Regions from separate parts of the Homo sapiens genome. Here regions 1 and 2 are each reported to be linked to region 3. Evidence: microRNA targets listed by miRTarBase, many of them from high-throughput screens and not tested one by one. Region 3 holds a microRNA gene; each other region holds the end of a gene's coding sequence.
Evidence for each region. The annotated mature microRNA hsa-miR-4433b-5p reads AUGUCCCACCCCCACUCCUGU and lies in region 3 at 2,809-2,829, opposite strand. An mRNA with a match to its seed (bases 2 to 7 or 8) in the 3' UTR can be bound and repressed. Matches are read on the target gene's strand: a 7mer-m8 pairs with bases 2 to 8, a 7mer-A1 pairs with bases 2 to 7 and ends in A, and an 8mer does both.

Region 1: the mRNA of GPATCH8 is a reported target of hsa-miR-4433b-5p. Seed matches in the 3' UTR shown: 8mer at 6,199-6,206 and 7mer-m8 at 5,828-5,834.
Region 2: the mRNA of AFMID is a reported target of hsa-miR-4433b-5p. Seed matches in the 3' UTR shown: 7mer-m8 at 1,122-1,128.

Annotation. Positions count from the first base shown.
Region 1 is chr17:44,390,260-44,397,896 of GRCh38, forward strand. It overlaps GPATCH8 (G-patch domain containing 8), which reads right to left. Exons shown (of 8, transcript NM_001002909.4): 8 at 5,022-7,637. The coding sequence ends at 7,309. Among named protein-coding and RNA genes, the nearest start is that of ITGA2B, 4.4 kb to the left of the region's middle. RefSeq lists an enhancer at 7,221-7,637.
Region 2 is chr17:78,205,971-78,210,970 of GRCh38, forward strand. It overlaps AFMID (arylformamidase), which reads left to right. Exons shown (of 11, transcript NM_001010982.5): 10 at 1-80; 11 at 941-1,732. The coding sequence ends at 967. Among named protein-coding and RNA genes, the nearest start is that of BIRC5, 5.8 kb to the right of the region's middle.
Region 3 is chr2:64,338,001-64,346,046 of GRCh38, forward strand. It overlaps MIR4433B (microRNA 4433b), which reads right to left and starts at 2,848; the gene lies at 2,747-2,848. It overlaps MIR4433A (microRNA 4433a), which reads left to right and starts at 2,759; the gene lies at 2,759-2,839. LOC105374768 (a long non-coding RNA gene) reads right to left here and starts at 3,709. Exons shown (of 3, transcript NR_189739.1): 1 at 3,535-3,709; 2 at 57-357.

The DNA.
Region 1 (7,637 bases), not on the chromosome of region 3:
CTCAATCCTTTTTGGGTGATGGAGCTCTTTAACCATTAAGACTTGATTCTGGTTGGGGGCTTTGCCTAGGGGAGCCTTCCCTGACTCCTCAGGCTGGCCGCGTGGGCTAACACACGTAGGCACAGCATTGAGCACACTGTTTACTCTTGGTCCGTTCACAGGATTGTGTAAATGAGTCCCTTGGGAGCAAGGCTCCTTGCTACAGCCCTAGAGACTACCCAAGAGTCCAATGTGTAGTACGTGTATTGCTGAAAGACTGGATGGAAACACACACTAAGGATGGAAGATGCAAACATAGGGTGACAAAGTGAAGGGATGAGTTTTGAGCAGAAAGGCAAAGTCATTTTCTCTCGGTAAGCGGAAGAGGAGGAGTGCCAAGTCTTACTGGCACTCATGCCTTCCCAAAAAAGCAGGTTCTCAGGAAGATTTAAGAGGTCCGCTAGGGGTAACCATAGCCACATTTTCCTTTTGATTTCTATTTTCTGATCAAACTTAACCATTGCCGTATCCTGCTCAACCACCCTGTACCATTTTGAAGTCCCCTCGTAATTTACTACCTCAGCCTAGAGTTAAGAATCTTATCCTTTATAGGACAGGAAGCTAAAAGCCTGAACTTTGGTCTGGGCCTTCTTCATTGCTGAGTTCCCAGTGTCAAGTACATGGGAGGCGTGTAATTAATGTATTTGCTTGAACGAATACTTAACCCAGTCCTCTACTTACCTTCTATCCTCCCACTGTCCTCAGGTGAGTGATTGCTGTATTACTGGTGTATTCTGTGAGGCCAAATATGAACTTACATTTCACTCAAGTTTTCAATAAGTATTTACTCTGTTCAAGGCACTGTGTTGATAAAGGATACAAAGATAACCATTAGGCCAGGTATAGTGGCTCATGCCTGTAATCCCAGCACTTTGGGAGGCTGAGGCAGGAGGATGGCTTGAGCTCAGGCATTTAAGACCAGCCTAGGCAATACAGTGAGACCTCGTCTCTATTTTAAAATTATAAAAAATAAAATATTTTAAAAACTCCAAAGATAGCCATCAAGGAGACTTAACAAACAGCCCAGAAAGAGTTAAGACATGAACACACATAACTGCAGCAGAGAGACAGTCAAGCATGCCTTGAAAAATACACAGATTATCAAAGTCGTATATCATTGTTACTCATAACAACCCTAGGAAATAAGTACTATTATGCCCATTTTATAAACACAAAACTGTGGCACAAGAGTTTTAGGTAAATTGCCCATGTTTACGCAGCCAACAGATGGCAAAACTAAGATTCAAACATGGGTTGCACTTGAACTCATGTTCAAGTTGCCTTTTGTCAGAGAATGAAAGGGTTTTTAGGCATAGAGAATACATGAGAGCAGCAAAGGAACACAGAGGTAGGGAAGGACAAGTAGTTGACTCAGCATAGCAGAATGCTTAAAGGGTTGGACTGAGGCGCAAGGGGGTAAAGCTTGGGGATTCAAATTACTGGAGGTCCTTGAATGCCATATTAAGGAATCTGAACTTTAATCCATGGGGGATGGAAAATCATAAAGATTTTAGCCGGGCATGGTGGCTCATGCCTGTAATCCCAGCACTTTGGGAGGCCCAGGCGAGTGGACCACAAGGTCAGGAGTTTGAGACCAGCCTGGCCAACCTAGTGAAACCCCGTCTCTACTAAAAATACAAAAATTAGCTGGGCGTGGTGGTGTGTGTCTGTAATCCCAGCTACTTGGGAGGCTGAGGCAAAAGAATTGCTTGAACCTGTGAGGCGGAGGTGGCAGTGAGCTAAGATCATGCCACTGCACTCCAGCCTGGGCGACAGAGTGAGACTCCATCAAAAAAGAAAAAAAGAAAGAAAGAAAAGAAAAATAAAATTATAAAGATTTTTTACACCAGGTTTGGTGGCTCATGCCTGTAACCCTAGCACTTTGGGAGGCCAAGATGAGGATTGCTTGAAGCCAGGTGTTTGGGACCAGCCTGGGCAACATAGTGAGACCCTGTCTCTACAAAAAAATTAAAATTAGCCAGGCACGGTAGTGCACACCTGTAGTTCCAGCTACTGAGGAGGCCGAGGCAGGAGAATCACTTGAGCCCACGAGTTTTAGGTTACAGTGCACTACGATTTTGCCACTCCACTCCAGCCTGGGCAAGAGTAAGACTATGCCTAAAAAACAATTTTTTTTTTTTTTTTTTTTTTTTTTGCTGGGCATGGTGGCTCACACCTGTAATCTCCCAACACTTTGGGAGGCCAAGGTGGGCGGATCGCTTGAGGCCAGGAGTTTGAGATCAGCCTGGCCAACATGGCAAAACCCTGTCTCTACTAAAAATACAAAAATTAGCCGGGTGTGGTGGTGCACACCTATAATCTCAGCTGCTTGGGAGGCTGAGGAAGAATTGCTTGAACCTGGGAGACGGAGGTTGCGGTCAGCCGAGATCGTGCCATCACACTCCAGCCTGGGCAACAAGAGCAAAATTCCATCTCAAAAAACCCAAAAAACCAAAAACCAAAAAACACATTTTTGAATTTTTTTTGGCTCAATTCTGATGCACAATCCTCAGTTAATGATATTTTACTTGGCTCATATTCTTTTTATTTTTGAGACAGGATCTTGCTCTGTCACCCAGGCTGTAGTACAGTGACCTGAACATGGCTCACTACAGACTTGACCCCTGGGCTCAAGCAGTCCTCCCACATCAGCTTCATGAATAGCTGGGACCACAGGCTTGTGCCACCATGCCCAGCTAATTTTTAAATTGTTTTGTAGAGATGGGGTCTTGCTATGTTACCCAGGTTGGCCTCGAATTTCTGAGCTCAAGAGATCCTCCTGCCTTGGCCTCCCAAAGTACTGGGATTATAGGCATGAGACACTGTGCCTGGCCACTTTGCTCATATTCTTGAACATATAATCAAAATGTTTACTATGTATTCAGTGTGAGATACGTTGGGGGCTGCGGTGGGGGGATATAAGAATCACTCCCTGTTCTCTCAGAGATTACAATTTTACTGGGAAGCAATGAATACAAAATGAGCTGCATTCAGATTCTGAAAAGCCAGTAAGCTTACACAGAACAGGAAATTAGGTTCTAGTCAGGAAGGCCACCCAGGAAAATGCTGCAAAAATTGAGATATGAGTTGGTAGAAGTGAGTGAAGCTGTCTTTGGCAAATAAGAATGGAAATGGCTGACGAGGCCTGAATTAGTCATCAAGGGTTTGAAGAGGGAGTACTTTCATGTTTCAGGCCAAGGTGGCTGAGGCCTTATCAGAACAAGGCAATTAACTGCACGTATCTTCACATAACACTCTATACAGTCCAGTCTGCCTCTTTGACTTGTCACCTCCCCTGCTCTCAGAAAATCACTTTTTTTTTGTTTTTGAGATGGCGTCTCACTCTGTCACCCAGGCTGGAATGCAGTGGCATGATCTTGGCTCACTGGAACCTCTGCCTCCCGGGTTCAAGTGATTCTCCTGTCTCAGCCTCTTGAATAGCTGGGATTATAGGCGCACGCCATCATGCCTGGCTAATTTTTGTATTTTTAGTAAAGACGGGGCTTCACCATGTTAGTCAGGCTGGTCTCGATCTCTCCTGACCTCGTGATTCGCCTACCTCGGCCTCAGTGCTGGGATTACAGGCTTGAGCCACCGTGCCCCGCCCATTTTTTTTTTTTTTTTTTTTTTTTTGAGACGGAGTCTCACTCTATCACTCAGGCTGGAGTGCAGTGGCATGATCTTGGCTCACTGCAACCTCCACTTCCCACGTTCAAGCGATTCTCCTACCTCAGCCTCTTGAGTAGCTGCAATTACAGGCATGCACCACCATGCCTGGCCAATTTTTTTTTTTTTTTTAAATTTTTAGTAGAGATGGGGTTTCACCATGTTGGCCAGGCTGATCTCAAACTCCTGACCTCAAGTGATCCACCTGCCTTGGCCTTCCAAAGTGCTGGGATTAGACATGAGCCACCACACCTGGCCTCACTTTTCATTTTCTAACGTGTGTGTGTGTGTGTGTGTGTGAGACAGACAGGGTCTCACGCTGTTGCCCAGGCTAGAGTGCAGTGGTGTGATCTTGGCTCACGGCAACCTCCCGGTTCAAGCGATTCTCCTGCCTCAGCCTCTCGAGTAACTGGGATTACAGGCGTGTGCCACTACGCCCGGCTAATTTTTGTAGGTCTAATGTCATTTCTTTCTGGGTAAGGATCTTTGCTATTTTAGGAATATAGGCAGATCTGAGTACTCAACCCCAGGTTCAAGTTGAACAGCTCCTCTTTAATCAAAGGGAGAACACAGATGTATCAAACAGAGTAGGAAAGAAATGTATCAAAAGACAGTAGGAAAGAAAGCCTTTCCTTCTTGAAAGGCTGAGGTTGAGAGGGAAAGCTAATTTATCACTACAACTCTATGGTAGCTTTCCATGCTAAATTTTCCCTGCCTCTTTTGTGATTTTTTGATATGGAAGAGTAGGGGTTATATCTTCTCTGTAACAATTAGGCCATATTTCCTTATACCAAGTAGAGGTGCTCAAACACTGTAGTGGTATTAAAGGGCTGAGGAGAGTAACTGAAGACTGGCATACAGAACTCCACCTGGAGGACAAAAGTCCGGCAGATGATTCTTGTCATCTCAGTGCCCTTAAAGTAGTCCAAAATCCTAAAATTCAAAGCCAGAAATTCCACACCCATTTAGTAAGCACCTATATATACACCATATATTCTACTACACACAGATTATATATCTAAAATGGAAGGAAATCTTTCCTCTTGTGGGAAAGAGGAAGTGGAAAGGAGGTGTACATCCCAATACATCTACCTACAACTGAGAGAAATTAACTACTATTACCACCTCCCACACCATCATCTTTCCTCTCTCTTTGCGTAGCCTGAGCTTTCAGAAGCACAACTGCAAACATCTCTAACTGGTTCACAGGAATCTATTCCTTGGTCATGTCAAACAAGATGTTATTTATAACCCACACCTCCAACCCTACCTAACTTTGAGTGGATGGGGCAACAATTACGACAGACTCTGCTAAGTTTCCACAAATCATTGGTTTATTAGAAAGTTCCTTTCCCTCATTTTACAGCATATATATCTCTATCATATGTGATAAAGTTAAATACAATCTGTTATGCTTGTAAGTAAGGTTTATTTTTATTTTTACTTTTAAAATCACTATTCTGGAAGTTAAAGAAAATGCCCCTAGGAAGGCAAAGAGGCAGCCAGAGTATGGCTCAATCTACAAGCTAATGGGAAGCAGCACGAAAATGTTAATACTGTATTATTTATTTACATGGGCTGAAAGCAAAGAAAAATGAGTCCCTTCACTTACACAGATGATTTCATTTTTCCAGTGCTAGTTATCCAAGAAGTGATGCTTCTGAATCAGATGAGTACTGAACAGGTAGGAGGGTGGGAGGGCAGTCAAGAGTTGTGTTTGCCTGCCACTTTCTTTTCATAAACTTTACTCTTTTGAGAATTTGCGAAGGCAGGAACAGAGCCTTGGCCCAGGTAAGTATGGTTTTTCTTGTCAAGTGACCAACCAACCAATTCTAGCCACACGAATAGTTAGGAAAATGCCAAAGTGGGAATTGTTAACCTCATCAAAGGAGATGGGACCTGCAACACAAGCACCTTTGGGTCAGTGTGTTAATTAGGGCTGAGAGCCTGGGTGAAAGGCAAGAAGAGGGGCAAAAGAGGCTGAGGTGGTAATTCCTCTTGTCAGTGTCATGGGAGAAAAGAAACAAGGAACGTTTACTGTCTAAACTGAGCTGGGCAGAGGGCATGGAAACTATGAAGCAAAATATCTGTAAATGTGCTCACCTCCCAACAAAAGGAAGACTGTCCCAACTCATCCTCCAGCCTACTTCTACTTCCGTTTCTACCAACCCAAAAGGCACATTAAAAAAAAAATTGTCAGAGGGGGCTAAGTACTAGGAAGGCAAATGGACTGACTGCCTGGAACAAGGTACCCAGGGAAACCCAGGAATCCCCCCAGACAATCACCAAATCTCACTGCTTCCAGACAATAAAGCTGTTGAATCCCCTCCTTCTCCTCTGTGGGGTCTACCTGTTTCTCTGTGTAAAACAGCAAAAGTACATGAGGGAGACTGTTAAAGATGAGCATCCCTCAGAAGCCCCCAGCTGACTGCTGCCCATTAGCTCAAAAATCCCAATACTGGGGGCACTACATACTGCAAATTACTTAACATTTTGTCCCAGCAAAAAATGTTTTAACATTTTATAGTTCATAACTTCAAAAAATACATAAGTTTGGTAAAATATACATGCTTAGTCAGTTTTGCATCTAGCAGAAAACAAATATTTTATTTTTTGTTTTCATTTTATAACCTTTAGAGTTTCTTAATTCAACTAGGGCAAACATATTTACACAAAGCCACCAGAACGAGGATCACTTAAAGAGCTGGATGTAAAAAATATTATTGCAGTATACTACAAATATGGAACCTTTTTTATATGAGCTACAAAAAGCAGCATTTACGTTTATAGAGTTCAGTGCAATTTTTTACATTAAAAAAATCCTATAAATTAAGAAGGAAACATCAACACAACAGAAGAAAATATACCCTTCACTTTAGACACATGAGCTCCTCTCTGGGCCATACAGCTTTTATTCATGATAGGATCTTCTTTTCTGGGATATGGAGATGCCTCTTCTGGGATGAGGGATACCAAGATAACAGTGCCAAATGTGTGGCTCCGTTGATGTGGGAACTGGATGGAATTGCAGCCTGAGTTATATCAGGTTCCAGGTGAGACGCTTTCCACCTCACCTGGGATAACGTAACGTCACCAAAGATGGTCAAAGATACTACCCCAAAATGGTGGCACTTCCACCACTAGAACAGCTTGGCCTTCCCTGTGGCGCTGAGAAGGCAAGACCAGATGGGCCCACAGCAAGTGCTCTGGTGACAACCCACTGGCCAGAGGGGAGGAAAATGTTTTAAAATTTACAGAAGGGAAGAGCAGAGGAAAAAAGCAGAGGGAGGAGGGGATTATCTAAACTTGACAGTTTGGAGATGTTGCTGCAGAGGGGTGGGTAGCACTTACTGGTGTTCCCTAGCTTAGAAACACAGAAGAGGGAGGGACAAATTGAGAGGAGGACAGGAAAAAGAAATCCCTGATAGTAAACTGAAAGCAAACTTCAAATCTAAACCCACCCCTGCAAGCCAAAACTCAATTCTTTGGCTGTCAGACACTGCCCATCCCAGCTTCTACTTGCTGGTATTAATGGCTCAACACCCCCAAGGGAACATTTATGGGTCTCCTCCCCTGGCCCTACCTAGGATCCCATCCCCCAACTCACGTGCCATGGCTGGGGGGATGTTGCAGGTCCTGACCTGAGAAGATGGGGTGAAGTAGTGGGTGAAGGTGAAGTGCAGTGGCAGCTGCTGCAGCAGGCCGTGGAGCAAGTAGGGTGGGGTAGAGGGCAGCATGTGGGACAGGGTGAAAGGTGAAGGGCCCAGGATGGATGGCTGAGGCGGGAATGATGTGGATGGGATGGCTAGCGAGAAAGGTGGCAGGGTGGCCAGGGATGATTGAGTGAGTGAGGTGGGACAAAGAAATGGGGGTCAGATGGGGCTGGGGAATATGATGCACCTGGGCAAGTGGTTGGGGATGGGGGTGAGGGT
Region 2 (5,000 bases), not on the chromosome of region 3:
CCTCATTTGAAGAGCTCCACGATGTGGACCACTTTGAAATTGTTGAGAATCTGACCCAGAAGGACAACGTGCTCACCCAGGTGGGGCCTCATCCCTGGCAGCCCTTTCATGGTAGACAGCACAGGTCCTGTCGCAGCCCCTTAGATGTGCAAACCAGGAGTTCAAGACCAGCCTGGCCAACATGGAGAAACTCCGTGTCTACTAAAAATACAAAACAAATTAGCCAGATGTGATGGTACGTGCCTGTAATCCCAGCTACTCAGGAGGCTGAGGCATGAGAATTGCTTTAACCCAGGAGGCAGAGATTGCAGTGAGCCAAGATTGCACCACTGCACTCCGGCCTGAGCGACAGAGTAAGACTCTGTCTCAAAAAAAAAAAAAAAAAAAAAAGACCTGAGAACCTAGGAAAGAAAGAACCTAAGAAAGACCATCTTGTTTCTTTCTTTTTTTTTTTCTTTAGAGACAGGGTCTCCTCTCTTGCACCCAGGCTGGAGTATAGTGGCAAAATCTTAGCTCTCTGCTGCCTCCTGGGCTCAAGTGGTTATCCTGCCCCAGCCTCTCGAGTAGCTGGGACTACAAAGGCGTGCCACTGTGCCCTGCTAATTATTCAATGTTTTGTAGAGATGGGGTCTCTCTATGTTCCCCAGGCTGGTCGTCGTCGTCTTCCTTCTTCTTCTTCCTCCTTCCTCCTTCATCTTCTTTCTTCTCCTCCTCCCCCTACCCCCCCTTCTTCTTCTTCTTCCTTCATCTCAGCATATTATACCTCTAACCAGACTGTCTTCAACTCCTGAGTTCAAGTGATCTTCCCACCTCAGCCTCCCGAAGGGTTGGGGTTGCAGACGTGAGCCACTGCATCCAGCCCTGTCTCATTTCCTTAATCAAATTCCTGCAAAGAGCTGCTCTGATTCTGGGGCTTTTGTGTCTTCTCTTCCTGTTCCAGATTATCTTGAAAACAATCTTCCAGTAGTTCTGACGATACTTGGAGCCTGGTCCACGTGCATCCCACCTTGGGAAGCCTCTCCAAAGAGCTTTCGGAGCTGACACTGACAGCTTCAGTTTCCCCCAGCACCCAGGAGAGCCTTGCTGTGTCTGTCTGCCCGGCAAGAGTCCATTCTCACTGCTGGGACACTCATGAAAATCTCCACGTCCTCCCTCTTCCCAGCCTGGATGGAGCTCCAGGGCTGGGGAACGTCCGCAAGTCAATGCTCAGAGATGCCCGGAGCTGCCTCTTAGACTCGTCTGGCCCATCTACCTGCTGACAGAGCATGACAAAGATGACGCTCAAAAGTAATGCCATTACTTCTTTTTTTTTTTTTTTTTTTTTTTTTTTTGAGATGGAGTCTTACTCTGTCACCCAGGCTGGAGTGCAGTGGCGTGATCTTGGCTCACTGCAACCTCCACCTCCCGGGTTCAAGCAATTCTCCTGCCTCAGCCTCCTGAGCAGCTGGGACTACAGGCGCCTGCCATCATGCCTGGCTAATTTTTGTATTTTTAGTAGAGACGGGGTTTCAACATATTGGCCAGGCTGGTCTCAAACTCCTAACCTTGTGATTCGCCCGCCTTGGCCTCCCAAAGTGCTGGGATTCCAGGCGTGAGCCACTGCGCCCGGCCAGAATGGCATTATATTTAAATAGTTCATAAAGAAGCACAAAAGAATATTATTTCATAACATGTAAAAATTATATAAAACGTAAATTTCCATGTTGATAAATAAAGTTGTATTGGAACACGGCCCTGCTCGTTCATTTACGTATTGTCTAGGGCAGCTTTCAAGCTGCAGGGTGGAGCTGAGTGGTGGTGACAGTGACCTCCTGGCCCGTAGTGCCTGAAGCATTTCCTATCTGGCCCTTTTCAGGAAAAGTTTGCGGACCCCTGGGTAAGGGCTTCCCCAAGCCAGCTACCCTCTGCCTTCTGCTTCAGTCTCCTGTCTGCTCTGTCCTCCATCTCCCTGACATTTGGGTCTGTCCCTGAATGCCCCGGGGTCTCAGCGTTGGGGCCAACACCTTGACCTTGACAGGACAATGCTACCCACATGTAGGACAAGCTTCCTCTGCACCCGAGAGTGGTGTGCATGTCCCAAGAAGCCAGCTATATCCATCCACCACCCACCCCACCACACCGCCTCTTTCTCTCACACCGAATAGCATTCAAGAATTTCCACTGTGGGCTGGGCGCAGGGGCTAGTGCCTGTAATCCCAGCACTTTAGGAGGCCGAGGTGGGCGAATCACCTGAGGTCAGGAGTTCAAGACCAGCCTGGCCAACATGGCAAAACCCTGTCTCTACTAAAAATACAAAAATTAGCCAGGCGTGGTGGCTGGCGCCTGTAATCCTAGATACGTGGGAGGCTGAGTTAGGAGAATCTCTTGAATCCGGGAGGCAGAGGTTGCAGTGAGCTGAGATTGTGCCCCTGCACTCCAGCCTGGGTGACAAAGCCAGACTCCATCTCAAAGAAAAAAAAAAAAATTCCACTGTATGTGTGCAGCAAACCATCATGACACACATTTACCTGTGTAACAAACCTGCACATCCTACACATATACCCTGGAACTTAAAGTAAAAGTTGGGGGGGGGGGTAAAAAAGAATTTCCACCGTGACATTATTGAGTATAGCAAAAAAAAAAAAAACAAGAAACAGCCTAGTGTTCATTAGGGAATAAACGCATTCAAGCAGCATCAAACCCTGCAGCCATTACAAAGAGATCTATGTTGACCATGTGGAATATCTCCAAGAGCCACAGTAGCCTCCCTTATCTGTAGGATTCACTCCAAGACCCTCTGAAACCATGGATAATACTGAACCCTATATACACTATGTTTTTTCTTGTATATACATACCTACGATAAAGTTTAATTTATAAATTGGCAAAGGGTATATAAATATTCCTTCTAAGAGATTAACAATAACTAATAAAGTAGAACGATTAAAACAATATACTGTGATCAAAGTTATGTGAAGCCAGGTGCTGTGGCTCATGCCTGTAATCCCAGCACTTTGGGAGGCTGAGACAGGTGGATCACCTGAGGTCAGGAGTTGGAGACCAGCCTGGCCAACATGACAAAACCCCGTCTCTACTAAAGATAAAAAAAATTAGCCGGGCATGGTGACACATGCCTGTAATCCCAGCTACTTGGGAGGCTGAGGCAGGAGAATCGCTTGAACCTGGGAGGCGGAGGTTGCAGTGAGCTAAGATCACACCATTGCACTCCAGCCTGGGCAACAAGAGTGAAACTCTGTCTCAAAACAAAACAAAACAAAACAAACTTATGGGGTTGCTCTCTTTCTCTCAAAATATCCTTTTTTTGGCAGGGCACGGTGGCTCATGCCTGTAATCCCAGCACTTTGAGAGGCTGAGGTGGGTGAATCACCTGAGGTCAGGAGTTCAAGACCAGCCTGGCCAACATGGTGAAACCCCGTCTCTATTAAAAATACAAAAAATTAGCTGGGCGTGGTGGTGCAGGCCTGTAATCCCAGCTACTTGGGAGGCTGAGGCAGGAGAATCACTCGAACCCAGGAGCTGGAGTTTGCAGTGAGCCGAGATCATGCCATTGCACTCCAGCCTGGGCCACAGAGCAAGACTCCATCTCAAAAAAAAAAAAAAGAAAAAAAGAAAGTCTTTTTTTTTTTTGAGACTGTATCTCACTCTTTCTCCCAGGCTGGAGTGCAGTGGCCCAATCATGGCTCACTGCAGCCTCGACCTCCCAGGATCAAGTGATCCTTCCACCTCAGCCTCCCGAGTAGCTGGAAGTATAGGTGCACGCCCGACTGATTTTTTTTTTTTTTTTTAGACGGAGTCTCACTCTTGTTGCTCTGGCTGGAGTGCAATGGCAGGATCTCGGCTCACTGCAACCTCTGCCTCTTAGATTCAAGCGATTCTCGTGCCTCAGCCTCCCGAGTAGCTGGGATTACAGGTGCCCACCACCATGCCCGGATAATTTTTTGTATTTTTAATAGAGACAGGGTTTCACCATATTGGTCAGGCTGGTCTCAAACTCCTGACCTCAGGTGATCCACCTGCCTCAGCCTCCCAAACTGCTGGGATTACAGGCGTGAGCCACCGGGCATGGCCTTTCCTGGCTAATTTTTTAAATTTTTGATAGAGATGGGGTCTCAGTGTTGCCCAGGCTGATCTTGAACTCCTAGATTCAAGTGATCCTCCCTCCTTGGTCTCCCAAAGTGCTGAGATTACAGGCGTGAGCCACCGCCCCGGGCTGGAAAATACTTTTTTAAACGAGGGCAATGTGAATCTGAAATGCCATTTGAGGAAAGATCTGTTCGCCTGACATCCTGTTTGAGCCTGGGTGGACAGGACAGCACCTGCCAGCATCGGGAAGCACTGCAGATGGGAAGAGGCTTGGTCACTCTCCAAAGGTGGCAGGAGTTGGAGGGGGTGAGCTGAAGGTAAGGAGAAAGGAGGTGGGGACCCAGGAGACAGGGGCTGCGCAGCGGGCTCGGGGCTGACACCCCCACGGATACAGTTCACTGGGGCTCAAACATAAAAGGAACCCAACTATTGTGGGAGGAAAAGACTCTTCTGCCTTTCTGCCTTTTCTTTTTTTCTTTTTCTTTCTTTCTTTTTTTTTTTTTTTTTTTGAGACAGAGTCTTGCTCTATCGCCCAGGCTGGAGTGCAGTGGCGTGATCTCGGCTCACTGCAAGCTCTGCCTCCCGGGATCACGCCATTCTCCTGCCTCAACCTCCCGAGCAGCTGGGACTACAGGCGCCTGCCACCACACCCGGCTATTTTTTTGTATTTTTTAGTAGAGATGGGGTTTCACCGTGTTAGCCAGGACGGTCTCGATCTCCTGACCTTGTGATCCGCCCGCCTCGGCCTCCCAAAGTGCTGGGATTACAGGCGTGAGCCACCGCGCCTGGCTCTTTTTTCTTTCTTTTTTTTTTTTCCGAGACAGAGTTTCACTCTTGTTGCCCAGGCTGGAGTGCAGTGGCGCAATCTTGGCTCACTGCAACCTCCACCTCCAGGGTTCAAGCGATTCTCCTGCCTC
Region 3 (8,046 bases):
ACCTCCTTAAGTCTCAGTTTCTTCATTAGTAAAAAGGGGATAATAAGAGTACCCACCTTGGAGGGCTTCTGTAAGAAACTAAAGCATTTATATGCTGCTGAGACATAGTAAACATTCAACATATGGCAGGCTCTTAATATTATTTCCTCTTCTATCCGCGAACTGCCTGAGATGTTTTTTCTAGCTGGGCATTGGTTTAAAAGTCCCCGAGACTATGTTAGACCCAGGGTGGGATTGTTTTTCCAGGGCTCCTTGCAAGGAACTAGGAGAACTCTGGCAGGAGCACCCTCCGGGAGCAGCAGGGCCTCCTCAGGTGGGTTGTTTGTGGTCAGACAGGTCCTCCCAGTTCCCTCCACACTGAGAGCATTGGAGAGAAAAGAGCAAAATGAAGTGATTACCCTGAGGTACAGGCCATACTGAACACTGTCTGTGAAACAATGGTGGGGTTTGGGGTCCTCTTTGGCACTGACTTAATTTTTTCCTAAGCCCATGGGCTTAGGGGCCAGAAAAGCACCAGGTACTGCGTTAGCAGTGTCCCTCAGGCCAGATGCAGTGGCTCGTGCCTGTAATCCCAGCACTTTGGGAGGCTGAGGGTGGAGGACCCCTTGAGCCTAGGAGTTCGAGACCAGCCTAGGCAACATAGCTAGACCCTGTCCCATTTATATTAAAAAATAAATTTTTAAAAAAGAAGTGTCCCTGAAAGAGTTAACACCAAAAGTATTTGCTAAAGATCTTAAATGAAGTAATTTTTTTTCAGTTACTTGCATAGGAGTAAATAATAGTAATAAGTAACACCTGCTGAGCCCTTAAATGCAGGCATGGTGCGCTACCTGCTTTACATTGAGTTATGTGACCCACCTGCATGTTTCCTCTCTCAGACCAGGTCATCATCTGGTGATGGGGTGGGGGTACAGTTGCTATACCCTCATTATGAATTTCTTTATTAACCTTAGTCCTGTTTACCTCTAACCTAGAGGCTTCTGAGCAAGCGCCCTCCTGTCTGCCATGCTCTCCTCTGGGCAGGTTTAGCTGAGAGCTGGAAGCAGAGATGAGTCAGACATGAGTACAGTCTTGGTCTTTAGGGGCTTTTATCCCACAGCTGATTGTGGCTAGAGGGGGTGGGGCTGTTTTTAGCCCAGCTTGCAGCCTTACCCCCTGCTGCTTGCAGCACCATCAGAAGCATACCTGCTCCAAGAGAGAAAACAGACTTTGACCACAAAAGGACACATGCTTCTCTTTTGCATGTCCTCGGATGCCTACTTGGGATCGCATGGGTGCTGAGAAGATGCTGTTGATGGTTTGCCCTGGTTGTAGCTGCATTTCTAGGGGTGTGGCCTAAGCCAGGCAGTCGGGGTGAATAGGGCTTCTCCTTTCAGAGGTTCTTCCAAGAAGGGAAAATCGTGTGCCCATTGATTTTGTTTCCACCACAATCTTTGTCCAGGCCATCCATCACCTTTCCCCCTGAATCTACAACCCCTTCAGGGGTGTCTCTGTTCCCACCCTTCTCCTGTCCTATACAGTCTGCACTTGATGGCCCAGAGCAGCCTTCCTCTGACTGTTCTCATCAAGTGGCTATAACCACAGTGCTCACCCAAGGCACACTGGGGGAAATTCAAGCTTCTCCTGCCCTTTTCCTAAAATACTCATGACCACCAAACACTATTTATTCCAGTATATCTTGTGGAAGGGGGTGTTGCTGAGTATTAAGCAAAAAACTTTATTTTTGTATATTCAAACTTATGGAATAAGTTCAGGAAATACTGAGTTAAAAGGGTTAAAGTGTTGGTTTTTCAACTGCAGGACTTCTCAGACTCTTTGAGATGCTGATGTACACAAGGGGTATGGGCTGCATGTTTCTACATGCTGATTTGATATAGAACCCTAGATAGAGCATCTCGCAAGACCAGTGGTCCCTGGAACCCAGCTTAGAAAACACTGCCCCAAAGAAGTCTCCTGAGAAAAATGTATTGCTGTTGATCTTTCAGCCTTCGTCACTGCTATCCTTCCCCTAAAGGGCTTGCCTTCAGCCTCTCTACCCATCCTGGTTCCCCCAGTGCTTTGGAACCAGGACAGACACACTCTGCTCCTAATAAGCATTTCATAGTCAGCCCCAGCCCAGAGCTCTCCTTATCATTCATTCATTCATCAAATATTTTTTGAGCATTTACTTTCTTCCAGGAGCTGTGCTAAGAGATATAGTAGCAACCAAGGAACATTCCAGTAGGAAACAGACAGGTAAGTAGATGGGTTTAGTATAGTGTGAGAAGTACAATACAAACACACCCAAGGATAGATCCAGATTGAGTCTTGGACAGTCGGAAAGACTTCCAGGGGAAAAAAAATGGCATCTTTTCTTCATTTCCACACTTAGCAATTTTTCTATATTGGTTTGTCATTTATTCATTTAATCACCAATCATTTATTGTGGGCTGGGCACTGTGCAGAGATAGTAATCAGACTTGACTTGAGGACGATAAGAAATCACTGAAGGGATTTTAAGCAGAGAAAGGACATGATCTATTTACACTGGTAGATGTCACTTTGATTGTAGGAAAAGTGGACCGGCCAGGGCAAGGCTTGAGGCAGGAAGCCAGCTAGGAGACCACTGCATGAACCCACATAAAAATGAGGACCTGGGCTAGGGAAGTAGCAGGAAAAGTGGATTTTGACAGATATCTAGGACAGAGCCAACAGGACTTGGACAGCAATGGGATGTGGGGGAGTAAGAGGGAATAGTTTAGGATGATGTTCTTTCCCCCATCCTCCTTACGTCCCACCCCCCACTCCTGTTTCTGGTGAAATATTCAAACAGGAGTGGGGGTGGGACATAAGGAGGATAGGGAACACAGGATGAAGGGCAGGTTACAGGGGTCCACGTGCGAGGGGAAGATAATGTGTTCAGTTTTAGACATGCTGAGCTCATGATTCCAATTCCTTTGGACATTCCAGTGGAGATATCTGGCAGGCTGATTTTTCTCACGAGAGAAATCATGTCTGGAAATACAGATCTGAGAAGCAGCAGCAACATATGGGTGGCCACCAAAGCCGTGGACTCAGTCAGCACCATTAAGCCAGAGTGATGGGTGAGATGGGTGACAAGGGCCCCCCTTGCAGCAGGTGGGTGACAAAAGAAGAATCAGTGTTGCAGCATGGGAAGGACTGCCCAGAGAGAAAGGAAGTGAACCAGGAGAGGATCTAGAAAAAGGACACTGGGCAATGAGAGCTTGGAGCGGGCCTCTGCACCAGGGGAGGGGTGGCTTTGACTGGCAGATACACATGTCTAGTACACGTGGAGGGTATGAAAACTCCAGGGAAAGAGAGGGGCAGCAGGAGCTCCCTCTTTTTGTAAAACAGGCTTTCTCTTAGGCGTAGCCTTCTAACTGATCTGCCCCACTATCCTCAACCCACTCTCCACTTCATAGCCAGATAGGTCTTTTCAAAACACATCTCTGATCACATCACCGCCTCTCCCCCAGCTCTATTAAAAACCTTTGGATATTTCTATGGCTCTTAGCATGCAGACCAAACTCCTACCTGGCCTGGCCTCTACTTCCTTCTCCAGGTGCACCTTCTGCCAGACTCTCTTGCTCTCTCCCCTGCAGCCAGCTGGCTTCCATTCGGCCTCGCAGACTCGTTGCATGGGTGTTACATTGTTGCTGTCAGAGCCATGTCCACCCTTCCCATCCCGTGGTCCCCCGATCTGCTCTGTGTCACTGGGGGCTGTTCCAGGCTCCAGAGCCAACTGCCTTCCAGTAAAGTTCAGCCAATGGGGAGTGAGGGAGGGCAAAAGATATTGGAGGTGAAGGAAGGAGAAGCCAGAGTACTTCTCCTGCTTCTCTTTCTCAGGAGTCTCTTCTGTGGCTGCAGTTCCCACTACACAGCCATCTCTGTGTGATCCCTGCTACCCATCTTGGCAGGCCCTCTTTGTTCCAGCTTATCTTGTCTTAGGCTCCAGAAACTGTTTCTTTCCTTGTTCTCCAGCTTCCAGGGTGGTGCTATGGGTTGAATTGTGTCTCCCCTGCAAGTTCATGTGTTGAAGTTCTAACCCCCAGTACTTTAGAGTGTGACCTTATTTAGGGTTGTGGTCTTTATAGAGTAGCCGAATTAAAGTGAGGTCATTAGGGTGGACCCTAATCCAATATGAATGTTGTCCTTATAAAAAGGGGAAGTTTGGACAGAGATAGACACACACAGAGGGAAGACGATGTGAAGAGACATAGGTGAAAATGGTCATCTACAAGTCAAGGAAAGAGGCGTGGAACAGATCCTTCCCTCATAGGCCTCAAAAGGAACTACCCCTTCTGACACCTTGATTTTGGACTTCCAGCCTTCAGAACTCTGAGACAATAACTTTCTGTGTGAAGCCACCCAGTCTGTGGCACTTTGTTACTGCAGCCCTAGCAAACAAATACAGTAGTCCCAGCTTCCTGGAGTTGCTACTCTCAGGGTTCCCCTGGGAGCTCTTTCAACTCCTCTGACTCCCCGTATGAAATTCCCTCTATCAAATCACCTAGAGTGGGTTTTGCTTTCCTGGCTGGGTCCTGACTAATATGCCTGCCATGATCCTTTCTGCCACAGAGGACATAGTGCTTCCTCTGCCTGGTATTTTTCCCCCTCTCATCTTTACCTAATGAACTTTCCCTAGTAAACTCATCTAGGTCATAGGTAAATGTCACTTCCTCAAGAAGGCCTACCCCTGTATAGTCATTACCAGCTCTTATGGCTCCAAGCACCACCACTCATGGTTTTGATTTTATTTCTGTGTGTGATTATTAGTTAATGTTTTCTTCCCAGTCCATCAGGAAAGGTAGTCTTTTTTTTCTTACCACTTTCCCCAGAGCCTAGGATGATGCCTATAGTAAATATTTAATACACAGTCATGTGTGACTTAACAACGGGGATACCTACTAAAGAATGCATTGTTAGGCAGTTTCGTAATGAGAGCATCAGAGTATACTTACACAAACCTAAATGGTGTAGCCTGCTACACACCTAGACTATCTGGTCTAGCCTATGGTTCCTAGGCTACAAACACCTATAGTACGTTACTGTACTGAATAATGTGGGCAATTGTAACATAGTAGTATTTGTGTATCTAAGCACATCTAAACATAGAAAAGATACATAAAAATATGATACTATAATCTTAAGAAATCACCATTGTATATGTGGTCCCTCATTCACTGAAACATTGTTATGTGGCTCCTGACTATATATTTATTGAGTGAACGGAGGAAGGGTAGTATAATTTTGTAGATAATGCTAGTATTTATGTGCCAGTAAAGTTCTAAGCATCTTACAAATATTGCATTTAATCCTTTAATCCTCATAACAATTTATGGGATAAGTAATATTACCTCTATTTTACACATGAGTAAATTCACTTATGATCCCATAGCTAGTAAGGATTTGAACCCAGGGACTCCAGCACCAGAGCCTGAACTCTTAATCACTGTTATTCTGGCCTACGCTGTTCTCCCATGTTTTAGCAAGTCTACAAATTTTGTTTGTGCTAGCTTGCTATTATACTATGCCTTGTACCTCTTATTTGCAATGAATTATGTTTAACTTGACATGATATTAGAAAATTTCCTGGACAAATGTTTTCTATGCCAAATAGCACCCCAATAATATGCACCTTGAGTTTTAGCAAAAATTTGGTGACAAACCTATGAATACACAGTCCCAGGATGGTGAGGTTCCTGGGTATCTCACCATCTTTTGTGGTTCTGTGAAATCTGCCCACCTCTCTATAAATCATCCCCTCATTAAAATCCCTTCAGCTAAACCCTTTGGGAATGCCATCTTCCTTCTGGGACTCTGGCTGATACCCTGCAACTTCCTGGGAGCATCCCCTGGCTTTCTTATGTGTTTATGGCACGTGACATTACCATGTGACTGCAGTAGCCTGGGCTGCCTCTCCTGTGTCCGGCAGCTGTTGGCACCACCTTATGTGTGGAGAGTGCCCTGTGTGCTCAGAACACCCCAGGTACTATGGGGAGATGCCCTGGACCAAGACTCTTCATATTTCATGAGCATTACAGCGCAGAGGAAATCAATTTACACTGGCTTATTTGTGGTTTAAAAATGATCCAGCTGGGCATGGTGGCTCATGCCTGTAATCCCAGCACTTTGGGAGGCCAAGGTGGGTGGATCATTTGAGGTCAGGAGTTTGAGACCAGCCTGGCCAACATGGTGAAACCCCCACCTCTACTTAAAAAAATAAAAAATAAAAAAATTAGCCAGGTGTGGTGGTAGGCACCTGTAGTCCTAGCTACTCAGGAGGCTGAGGCAGGAGATTTGCTTGAACTCGGGAGGCAAAGGTTGCAGTAAGCCAAGATCATGCCATTGCACTCCAGCCTGGGTGACAGAGGGAGACCCCATTTAAAACAGAATAAAAAGAATGACCCTAAATCTTCTTCAGGTTTCAGACAAAATAGCAGTTTCTAGAGGGCACAGCCTATGTCCTGTTGTGGTGCATATGGAGGACTACGGTGGCCATACCTTTTTCTTGCTCACTCATTTGCCCATCTTCCTTTGCATGTTAACAGCTGCCCACTGTTCCTGCTGAGGGATTTTTCCTGCTCTATTCCATTTGGTGGAGTAAGGCACAGTGGCATTCCTCTTGGCAGCTGAGATTGGGTCAGGGATGGGACCTGCCAGATGTAATGAAACGACTTTTCCTAGTGAGGTCAACCTGCTAGGAAGATGGGAGTCTGTGGATAACCATCTCGTCTGTCTGAAGCATAAAGTCGAGACATGCAAAGCCAATAAACTGAGGAGACAGAACCTAGCAACATCATTCAAGACCTGGATCCCACCATCCCTGAAGCCAGTGAATACCCTGTATTCCACAATCATGCAACCCAATAAAGTCCTCTTTTGCAGCCGTAGCATGTTTGAGGTTGGTTTCTTCACTCATATCCAGAACATTCCCACTGATAGAGTTGTGGAAGCTTCTTGCTGTCTCCAGTGTACCTTGTAGTCTCTCTTCTAAAACTTTGTTTATACCAACTGTATTTTAAGCTCACTCCCTTATTATACATTGTCTTGTTCAATCACCTGTATCACAACATTTAAAATCTGGGTTGTTTATTAGCCTGTTGTCTGTCAGCCCCACACTCATGCCTCTGACTCTGGGCTGTAAGGTTGAAAACTACATTTCCCAGGTTCCCTTGCCAGCTGGCTTCCAGTAAGAGGCTCTGGCAGAGAAATGGAAAAGGAAGAGAAGCCACTGTTCTCTCTCCCCATCCCTGCTTTGGGGCACCTCTGAAAATTTCTGAAACCCCTTGATGACCCCAGCTTCAGCCAAAGCAGCCTCTGCTCAGTGGTCACAGCTCTAGCCTGGGTGGTCCCTCTTCAGTGGTTCCTGCACTGTCAGCAGTTGTAACAGCACCTCAAACAAAGCAACAGCATGTACACTTGGACTCTAACACCACCTTCCCCAACGACCATTTTCCTGTCATTATTATTCTCTGGTTACCTTACATTTTTGTTCTTTCAGCCCTTTTAACACTTTTGTAACTAATTTCCTGTATGAAACACTCTATTTAAAACATCTGCCATGATTCCTGTTTGCCTGACTGGAATCCTGATTGATACAGTGTATATTGTACATTACCTAACTCACTAGTAATTTCAGATGTGAACGAAGTTTCTTCTTAACAGGATGATGAGTTTCTATTGGGCAGACTGCATATGTGTCTGTCACAGACACAGTGTAGGACTGAACATATAACGTGAATCTGTACATACTTAATGATATAAGACAACCCTTGTCTCAGTGACATCTACAAGCTTGATGGTACACGAATATAGAAACATTCTCAAAGCGATATTGGAGCCATGTTCAAATTAGCACAATTGAGGCTACTCATTCCAACTGGGGAACATATGGAATGACAGTGTCCTTTAGTGATACTGACCCAGGCATGCTTTCTGGAAGAGGAAGAGTCTCAGGCTAGAATGGATGTGAGACATTTCCTTATCACTTCTCTGATTCTGGTAGAGTGATGAGGTAAACTTGTAAGGAAAATCAAGGTGGAG